Regions from separate parts of the Homo sapiens genome. Here region 1 is linked to region 2. Evidence: fine-mapped expression QTL. Tissue or cell type: whole blood. Region 2 holds a variant in brackets; the other region holds the start of a gene. All regions are shown on one strand. Distances are from middle to middle. Region 1 holds the start of TAF5L (TATA-box binding protein associated factor 5 like). Region 2 has its middle 20 kb from the start of ABCB10.

Region 1 (5,377 bases), 48 kb after region 2:
ACTCAGGACACCTGGCTGAAGGGTCTGAGCTCTCACCTTCTACAGCATCTTGCTGCTCAAAGGATTCTACATGTGACCAGGGGCTTCCTGAGGGAGCACAACAATGAATGCTTACTAGAAGCTTGCTGAGAGAATGATCAGAACACTTACTACCTGAGAAGCCACCAGTCACATACAAGACAGGCTGGAAACGTGACTTCTAGTACTGTCCACTGAGTAATACTGGTTTAACAGATGACCCCTAGAGCTCCCTTCCAGCAAAACAAATTAGCAGAAACAAAACCCCCTTTCTTTCCCCAGAGATGTCCTTCACAGGTGCTAATATATTGCTTGCAAAACCAAAAACCAGTTACTGAGTAGTTAAGTGAGGCCTTTACCTAGTTTCACAGTGACAGAAGCTCACATAAGCCTCACATTTACAGGCAGGAGCAACAAAACTATTCCAAGATACACTAATTTAATTTGTTGTTGATGACAAAGAAAAATACTCAAAACAAGCCCACCTTTTAATTTTCTAGCTTAGCGCTGATTTTTAAGGCAGGAAGAATTTACGATTCATTAAAAAATTAGCATATATTCCATTTAACGCAAAAACTTAGGACTACAGGGAACCTAGAAGGTATTTTGCCAAAAAGGAAACGATAATAGCTAACATTTAGCTATTTTCATACACATCATTCTTTTTCTGGGTACCTTTAAAAAGGTCGTTTTTTGGGAGGCTGAGGCGGGAGGACTGCTTGAGCCCAGGCCTGGGCAACATAGAGGCACCCTGTCTCTTAAAGATAAAAAAAAATCCACGTTTAAGTTATTCCTTATCATCGCATTTTATAGATGAGGAAACTACAGTTCAGAGAGGTTATGCAGATGGCTACATGGTTTCCATCCTAGGTCTACTGTCACCAAGCTCTATCCACTACATTATGCTGTTCCAAAGTTTAAAGATGTGGCCAGATGCATTTAACCTATTAAGCACAAAACTCCCTTTCCTACTCCCCCTTCCAAGTAGAGCTGTGACCAGGAACTGGGGCACAGCCTCCGTGTCCTCCCCTACATCCCCAACTCAGGTGTTGGCACACTTGAATCGCCTGATATAAGACACGCTCCGCACTTAATGTTCCTCTCAGCACAGCTCCCAACTGCTTGTTAGCAGGAGTCACCATTCCGAGATTCCAATCTGCAAGGTCAGTTTAGGTACAGTAATTTAAGACAGACACTGCATGGGACTGGCACTTACCTTCTGATCCCAGAACCACAAAGACTGCGAGATCCGCATTACAACGACTTTCACAACTGATGGGAGAACTGCATGTAGCGTTCCTGCACTCCACTTCCGCTAAGTCTAAAATGACACCACTGTTTCTAACCATCCACTCACTTCGGACCAACGCCTTATCGAATACATTTTCAAAAGCCTGGCAGCTTCGCGAGCTGGAGGTGGTGAACCCGTCCCACACCATGGGCGCACCAACCTTACCTTGCTGTCATGAGGCAACGAGCCCCGAGAGACACCCTTGCAGGTAAGCACTCTCCTGCAGCAGCTAGTCTAACTCTGGCTCCCCCGTGTCACACGCGGAGATCGACTCCACACCCACCCACGCACGATCACCATGTGCAAAGTTGAATCCCGACTTCGCCGCAAAGACATTTCCTTTTCCCCTACATGCAAAGGAGCTGTGGAGCCGTGCTCCCTGCTTGGCTGTCGGGCACTGGGATACCTTCCCCGCGGGCGCCCGCCACCTCCTCCCCGAGCCCGGCATCCAACCCGCAGGACCCACCCCTGCGCAGGAACGCGACGCCAGTCCAGGTGTAGCCGCCGACTGCAGGCCACGCCGCCGGCCGCAGCCCGGGACTCGGGAGGCCGAGGGCGGAGGCGCGGCCGTCGCGCCCGCGCAGAGCCGCCCGCCGCCCCCCAGCCCCGCCTCCCGCGCCCCACCCCCACCGCCCGCCGGCGGGAGCCAAGGCGCGCCCCGCCGAGGCCCCACCGCCCCGGCCCCCGCCCGCCCGCGCGCGCGCGCGCCTCGCGACCCTCCCGGCCCTCCCCGCCCGTGCTCCCGGCACTCACTGAACATCCCAGGCGGCTCCGGCTCCCCCCGCCGCCGCCGCCTCCGGGATCGGGTTGCTTCCGCCTCCGTCGTCTCTGCCGCAGGGTCTCACTCCGACGGCCGGCTCAGCTGGGCCCCCGCGCCCCGCGCCCCGCCGCCCCCGCCGCCGCTCTGGGCGGCCGCTCCATGACTGACTGACACGGAGCGGGCCGCGGGCTGGGCCGCTCGGGCCTCCAACGCGCAACCGTCTCCGCCAATGGGCGAGGCGCCTCGGCGCTCGGCTGGCGACGCCTGGCGTGCGTGCAGCCCCTCCCCGCTGCGCCGCCGGCGTCCGGCGGAAGGAGCGCGGGTACCGGTCCCACGTGGTGGGGACGCGGGACCCGTACAGCGGCCTCCGCCGCACCGGGACAGCAGCCGCCGCCGCTGCCGCCGTCCTCCCCTGTCTACCCGGAGCTGTCTCGAGCTGAGCCCCCTACCGGGCCGGATCCCGAGGTGAGTCCCCCACCTGCGGTCAGCCCCTGCGGGCAGCCAGGTCCCGAGGTGAGTCCCCCCACCCGGGGCTGGTCCAGAGGAGATCCCCCTACCTAAGGCCGGGCCCAGATGGGGGGCCCCCCAACCCTGCCCAGTTCCGGTGCCGCCAGCAGACTCTGGGCTGGAGCGGCTTCGGCACGCTCCATTCGCGAAGGCGAACTCCCTCCTGGCTCCTAGCTGCTCTCCCCTGGTTCTTGTTGCTTGGTCTCTTTCTGCTGGGCAGGGAGTGCTGGCAGGGCTGTGCTGTCCGCCCTGGACTTCGCATTGCCCGGTAAGGGCGGTTGGAGGCCCGGAGAGCCGAACTCTGGCGGAGCCGGGGAGAGCATCTCGGTTGTCTTTGTAGCCAGTTCAGCAAACACCTGTTATGCACTTTGTAGCTGTCGCGATGGCGGTTCTATGGTATTGAACTTAGAAAGTCAGGCATCGTTGAATTCGTTTTGGACATTTTGACAAAATAGGAAAACTGACAGCACTTGACGTTCTTGTTCTCTGCAGTAGAGTGAAGGATAACTTAATTTCTAAAATGAAAACGTCTTAACGTTCCTTTTTACTATAACTTTTAGGAAACTCAAAGCCAAGTTTACCCAGTTTAATAGTAACTGTAGGTGTTTGGTATGTTTGCTACCCCCGAGATTTCATGGTTTTTTGTTTTCTATTTTTAGTCTTTTCCTTGTGCAAGTATCTCTTGTAGAGTCTTTTTTGAAGTGTATGTGCGTTGTAAATTTATACACGACTGAATAAAAGTGTTAGTGGAAGGTTACTGTTGCAGCTGAAATAACTGTATTCCTTTGGGGTTTTCTTTTTCACTTGGAGACATATTACTTTCTCCGGATATTGCTTATGTATCTTTTCCTCTTTCAATTTGAAACCATGTATGAATGACTCTTTCCACAAGTAATGTAATCACTGATTTTGGCCTTGTTGAATTCCTGAACACTCACCTTTGTGGAAGTGATGTTTGATCATAGCTGGAATACATATAGTCCATCTTCTGTGTGTGCAGTCCATCTTTTGCTTGCTTTTGTCTGAATTTCCCCCAGAAAATTCTGGAGTCAAGCATCTTGTATGTAGATTTACCCCGACAAATCTGTTGATTCATTAAAAACTTTTAAAAGAATACATATTAGGTAAACAAGATACAGTACTGCAATACTGTTGGTTTTCTGGTGCCTGCTCAGTCTGACATTGTTATAGTATTTTTTTTCCCATTGTTTTTAAATTTTAGATAAAGCCTAGCCATGGCTGCTGTTTATTCTGGCATTTCCCTTAAGCTTAAAAGCAAGACAACTTCCTGGGAAGATAAACTAAAACTAGCTCACTTTGCTTGGATTTCTCACCAGTGCTTTCTTCCAAATAAAGAACAAGTAAGTTTAATGTGAAACTCATATTTTTACAGTCTGTCAAGATAATTATCACTTTTATAATTTGGATATTGACAATTGGTTAAAATAAAAAAATAGAGAAAAAGTTGGGGAGGGAACTTTGTTGGAAGTTAAATGTAATGTCAATGAAAAAAGTAATGAGTCAGGTACTTCATTAATACATTTTTTTTTTCTGTTAAAAAACCTCATTTAGGTCGGGGACAGTGGCTCATGCCTGTCATCTCTATTTTGGGAGGCCAAAGCGGGGGATCGCTTGAGGCCAGGAGTTCTAGACCAGACTGGACAACATAATGAGATCCCATCTCTTAAAAAAATTATATATATTATATATGTATATATATGTATATATACATATATAATATATATATAATATATATAGTATATGTATAGTATATATGTATATAATATATATAATATATATGTATATATATTATACATATACATATTATATATGTATATATATTATACATATACATATTATATATGTATATAAATTAGTCAGACATGGTGGCATGTGCCTGTAGTCCTTACTACTTGGGAGGCTGAGGTGGGAGGATCCCTTGAGCCCAGGAGTTTGAGGCTGCAATGAGCTATGATTGTGCCACTTTCACTCCCAGCCTGGGCGATAGAGCAAGACCTTGTCTCTTTAAAATAAATGAACCCACCGAATTTAGCATTTCTTTTGTTTGGAGACATTATATTACAAACTAAGTATATGCATTAATGAACACATTGGGAATTAAGTTACAGAAGTTAGGTTCTGAAAGTCCATTGATAGCTGCATTTGCTTATAAATCCAAAGTGATGTTTCTTAAACTGTTGGTTGGTGGTGCTTTGTTAAAAGTCTTCCGCATTGGATAAATTGAAGGTTGGGAAGTAGAGAAATGTTAGTATTTGTATAAAGCCATTTTAGAAATGGGCTAGGTACCAAGAAAGGCATTGCATTTTGTTAGAATTTCTCAGGCTTTTTAGGCTAAAAATTAGTTGGCATGATAAACACCAGGATGACAAGCTCATGAAATTGGATTAATACACATCCAGTTGCTGTTGTCAAGGAAGACAGCACAAAATGCTTCCAAGATGGATGACATATGTAAAGCGATGATGACGTGTGGTGTGGAGAGCAGCGGTCATATCCAGTGCTTTCTACACCTGGCTGCACTTGGGAGTCATCTTGGCAGCGTGGCCATCACCTGGCAGGTGCTGCCCAGGGTGAAACAAAGGGGAGGCTCTAGCAGCCAATTGGATCAAGGTTTCTGCTGTTGTTATACTGAGAGATTTTATTCCTTCTGGCATCTGTCACTATTCATACTGTTATTGACAGTTCTGGGATTGTGAGCTTTCTTCAATGTTTTGTGAAGAGGAAACATGACACGTAATGGAACCTGTATAGATAGGCACAGTCCTCCTTTTCATAAAGCA
Region 2 (5,377 bases):
CTTGAGCTCCTGGGTTCAAGCAATCTTCTGCCTCAGACTCCTAGGTAGCTGGGACTACAGGTGTGCACTACCACATCCTATTATGACCCAGGCGTGACCTCCATCATCCAGGCATGACCCTGTCATTTTTTTTTTTAAGAGACAAGATCTTGCTATGTTGCCCAGGCTGGTCTTGAACTCCTGGCCTCAAGTGATCCTCCCACCTTGGCCTCCCAAAGTGCTGGTATTATAGGTGTGAGCCACTGAGCCTGGCACTAATATAATTTTTATCATATCATCAGCCTGATAATCTGCATTTTACAGATGAGGAAACAGAGGCACAGAAATCATACATGGTTTGCTCAAGTAGTTCATGGCCCTGGGATGTAGATGGGTCTGACTCCAGACATGTGCTGTCAGTCACAGTGCTGCCCCAAGCTGCTCTGCAGTGAGGACCTTGCTCTTCCCACCCACCCTCCTGCCTTTTTGGGAGCTGTAGCTTGAGTTAGGGGGTTTACAATTTAATAAATGGATTCCTTGAGGCCCTAGAACATTCAAATACCTGGAAAGGTTGGCTACTTCCTCACTGATTATGTCAGGCTCACAAAAAGGCAGAAAAACATGGCAAATATCTCCACTATAAGATGTGTGTTTTTCTTTTTTCTTCCTTTTTTTTTTGAGATGGAGTTTCGCTCTTGTTGCCCAGGCTGGAGTGCAATAGCACGATCTCGGCTCACCACAACCTCCGCCTCCTGGGTTCAAGTGATTCTTCTGTCTCAGCCTCCCGAGTAGCTGGGATTATAGGCAAGCGCCACCACGCCCGGCTAATTTTGTGTTTTTAGTAGAGACGAGGTTTCTCCATGTTGGTCAGGCTGGTCTTGAACTCCTGACCTCAGGTGATCTGCCTGCCTCGGCCTCCCAAAGTACTGGGATTATGGGTGTGAGCCACCGTGCCCGGCCAACAATGTGGTCTTAAAGCGCTACAAGAGTGATTAAGGAAAATAGTTGGCCAAGCTGATGTTATGGCTTTGTTTGGGGCCATATCATCTGATCAGATCACATAAAACATGACAAAAATAAGATTTAAGTTTCAGACTAAGTGATGAAATTTGCCATAAAACTTGATTTTGAGCAACGTTTTAAAGAAATTCAGTTTAAGAGAGAGAGGAAATTTGTTTATTCTTATTAGTCTAGATCCAGGGCATTAATGTTAATGGGGATTTGTTAAACTGTTGGGCATATTTATCAAGAAATAGCAAAACCCAAATCAAAACAATTTATCAGGCAGGCTTAGCAAACATTTCAATTTAACAGATGTCTGAGTAGCTATCATGTGCAAGGTCAGCCTCTCTGTTAACTGAAAAATGGAGGTACCAATTGAACAAATCTGGATGTGTGATATTCACTCTCCATCAAATAGGCCTCATAACTTCTTCCTGAAGTGGGTGCCATCTAGGAGCAATTAGAGGGCTTAGTTGAAGTAGTGCTAAGTGTAACAGCATTTTATATTCGCTCATAGTTTCTGAACTGCACTTAAACACTCTCCTCTTGCCGGGTGCGGCGGCTCACGCCTATAATCCCAGCACTCTGGGAGGCTGAGGTGGGCGGATGACCTGAGGTCAGCAGCTTGAGACCAACCTGGCCAACATGGTGAAACCCCGTCTCTACTAAAAATACAAAAATTAGCCGGGCGTAGTGGTGGGTGCCTGTAATTCCAGCTACTAGGGAGGCTGAGGCAGGAGAATCGCTTGAACTCGGGAGAGGCAGAGGTTGCAGTGAGCCGAGATCGCACCACTGAACCCCAGCCTGGGCAACAGAGACTCCATCTCAAACAAAACAAAACAAACAAAAAAACACTCTCCTCTTTGAATTTGCAGAACACTGAATCTAGAGGTAGGAGGCTATGCTCCACCACCCAAAGTGATTGCCAGTTTCTCTGCCAGGAGTACTTTGGGTATTCTTCATTAAGAGGCTAGATCCATGGTATTACTGTCCAAAGGAATTTCTTAAACTATTGCACACACAAGCAGGAGAATCTAGAGCAAACATTGCTGATGTTCAACCTACTAGCAAACATTTCCATTCAATGATGTTGAGTCCCCACTATGAGCAAGGCATCTATTCACTGAAAAATGGAGTTATCAGGTGAACACCACCTCTACCTAACTGATCAATGAATCTCTGGTATCTAGCACAATGCCTGGCACACAATATATATTTTTACAAGTGGTAGTTTTTATTATTCCCTGATTTCTTTTTCTCCTTCCTTCCTTTCTTCTCTTTTCTTTCTTTTTTCTTTCTTTCTCTTTCTTTCTTTTTTTCTTTTTCTTTCTCTTTCCTTCCTCCCTTCCTCCCTTCCTTCCTTCCTCTTTCTTTTCCTTCCGTCCTTCCTTCGCTTCCTTCCTTCCCTCCCTCCCTCTTTTTCTCTTTCTCTCTTTCTTTCTTTCTTTCTTTCTTTCTTTTTTTCTTTCTTTCTCTTTTTCTTTTTCTTTCTTTCTCTTTCTTCAGTCTCACTCTGTTACCCAGGCTGGAGTGCAGTGGCATAATCTCAGCTCACTGCAACCTTCGCCTCCTGGGTTTTCAAGCGATTCTTCTGTCTCAGCCTCCCAAGTAGCTGGGATTACAGGCATGCACCACCATGCCTGGCTAATTTTTGTACTTTTTTAGTGGAGGTGGGGTTTCGCCATGTTGCCCAGGCTGGTCTCGAACCCCTGACCTCAGGTGATCCGCCCGCCTCGGCCTCCCAAATTCCTAGGATTACAGGCGTGAGCCACCATGCCCAGACCCTGATTTCTTCTTGTGTCTACTCCCACCCTCCCTCTGAAAATGTCCCAGAGCCCAAGAATCTATTAGCATTTGACTATAGCTTTGTTTTAGCTTCACATTGATTGTAATCTAAGGGCAAATCTGCTGCCACGGTGTGGCAGCAAAGAAATGAAAGGAAGTGTCTGGCAGCGCAGGGGAGAAATTGTGTTTCCTCCTTCTCCAAAGGTTCACCTTTTCTATTTCACCTTCATCATTCATAAGAAGGTGAAAGGATGCCAGGAGCAAGGCGGATCTACGGGACTTTTGAAAAGAAATGTACTGACCTTTGGCTGTAAAAACTGTGTCATGAGAACAGAAAGCCCTGAGAGAAGAAGTCAGAAAATAGAGAAAAGGG[G/A]AAGGGAAAATAACTCCTGGCCTGCCTCCAATTCATTTAAATATTGCTCAGAGCTCAGCAGAGCGGGATGAGAGACACTGGCAAGAGGCTGTGCTGCAGTAAATGAGAGAATCTCAGGTGTCCTTATAATGGCCCTGTTATGGATCGCAGCTTGGATGAGCACTTCACATAAATGCAAGGCCATTTCAGGACTCCCCAGCTGCAGTCAGCAGGCCCTCTGTATGCTTTGGCGTCTGCAGCTGGAAGGAAGCCTGCACAGCTCCCTTCTGTCCTCTCATTGTTCACAGGACAGCCATTCATGGGATCTATGGCGCACTCTGTGCTAGGGCAGAATGCCAGGGAAGAGCTGCCTGTCTTCAGCGCCCTTGCTGGGAACCACACGCCAGAACCCGACCCTGCCATGCTTTGTGCTTCAGGCAGCAGGACCCCACCCCTAACAGAGTCTCAAGTCAGACACTAAGCGATGATCACGACTTGGGAACTCAGCCAGGAAAGAAAAGACATACAGCTTGAAAACAATGTGGGAAATGGCTGAGAAAGAGAGGAAGATAAGAAATAAAGAGGGCTCTCTGAAGAGTGAGCTGAACTTTGGTTGTGACAGGTTCTCAATAGTACCAAAATCCATGAACTTTTTTTTTGAGGATTCAAAAAAGTTTATAATTAAAGAGAAATGCTTCTAATTAAGGAGACAGTTTTCTGTCTTTTGGGAGATGGGGTTTGTTTGTTTGTTTTTGATTTCTCTGTTATGCCTTTATATAATGAGCCCTTAACAAAGGTAATGATCATGAAGTAGATTACTACATGTACAGCACACTATGTTTCTGGGCATTTACTTATAGCTTGATATCTCCCCAAATTGCTTTACCTTTTTCTTCTTAGCTTGAGCAGAAATTACAGTATCTTGTCCCTCATTATACTTACCTATGGTTTTATTTATTATTATTTTTTCAGTTGGAGTTGCACTCTTGTCGCCTGGGCTGGAGAGCAATGGCGTGATCTCGGCTCACTGCAACCTCTGCCTCCCAGGTTCAAGTGATGATTCTCCTGCCTTAGCCTCCTGAGTAGCTGAGATCATAGGCGCCTGCCACCATGCCCAGCTAATTTTTGTATTTTTAGTAGAGACAGGGTTTCACCATGATGGCTGGGCTGGTCTCGAACTCCTGACCTCAGGCGATCCACCTGAGTCAGCCTCCCAAAGTGCTGGGTTTACGGGCATGAGCCACCACGCCCGGCCTATTCTTCTTTTTTTAAATCTAAATTTTATTTTTAGAGACAGGGTCTCACTCTGTTGCACAAGCTGGAGTGCAGTGGCACAATCATGGCTCACTGCAGCCTTGAACTTCTGGGCTCAAATGCTACTCCCACTTCTAACTCCTGAGTAGCTGGGACTATAGGCACATGCCACCATGTCTGGCTATTTTTTAATTTTTTTTTTCTTTTTTTTTTTTTGTAGAGACAGGGTTTCATTATTTTGCCCAGGCTGGTCTCGAACTCACGGCCTCAAGCAATCCTCCCAAAGTTCTGGGATTACAGGCATCAGCCACCGCACCTGGCCTGGTTTTATTCTGGGAGGCAAAAGTATTTTACCAACATAAATTTATGAGCCATCGGAACAACCTGTGAGTTAATTCAGATTTGAACTTTGTTTTATAGAAAGTCACAAACTTTGAAATATTGATAAATCCAGTAATATTGGCTTAATCAAGAAAGAGCATTTTATGGCATGGAGTAGGTAGGCATTAAAAATTGCCTTTCAAAAAAATTTTGGATACACTTTTATGAGCATAAGTCTCATTTTAAAAAACATCAAAAGAAACAAGAATAATTCAAAACACAAAAGTTGGTGCATTGAGTTAATATTTGCGACCCTCTTCCAATAAATTCATCCTTAAAAGTCCTACAGACAGTTGAGCTGAAGTCTCCTCAAAGTCAAAAGGAACCCAGACTGCAGTTTTGTTTCATGAATGAATAGCTATCTTTTGCCACACATTCATTTACTCAATCATTCAATAAGCATTATTGAATTACTGCCAATTATAGGCCGTTGCATCTTACTTTTTCAATTTTGGGGGGTAACGACTTTATTGAATTCACATACCATACAATTCCTCTTCTTAAAATGTACAACTCGGCCAGGCACAGTGGCTCACGCCTATAATCCCAGCACTTTGGGAGGCTGAGGCGGGCGGATTACCTGAGGTCAGGAGTTCAGGACCAGCCTGATCAACATGGCATAAT

What was found.
Region 1: it holds the start of TAF5L, and the variant in region 2 is fine-mapped to the expression of TAF5L in whole blood (INTERVAL, PIP above 0.99).

The regions. Positions count from the first base shown.
Region 1 is chr1:229,623,823-229,629,199 of GRCh38, forward strand. TAF5L (TATA-box binding protein associated factor 5 like) reads right to left here and starts at 2,300. Exons shown (of 5, transcript NM_014409.4): 1 at 2,063-2,300. It overlaps URB2 (URB2 ribosome biogenesis homolog), which reads left to right and starts at 2,425. Exons shown (of 10, transcript NM_014777.4): 1 at 2,425-2,534; 2 at 3,799-3,937. The coding sequence starts at 3,812. RefSeq lists enhancers at 1-364, 1,209-1,258, 2,919-2,998 and silencers at 1,749-1,938, 2,029-2,728.
Region 2 is chr1:229,576,006-229,581,382 of GRCh38, forward strand. No RefSeq gene overlaps it. Among named protein-coding and RNA genes, the nearest start is that of ABCB10, 20 kb to the left of the region's middle. The variant G/A (reference allele first, on the strand shown) is at 3,140.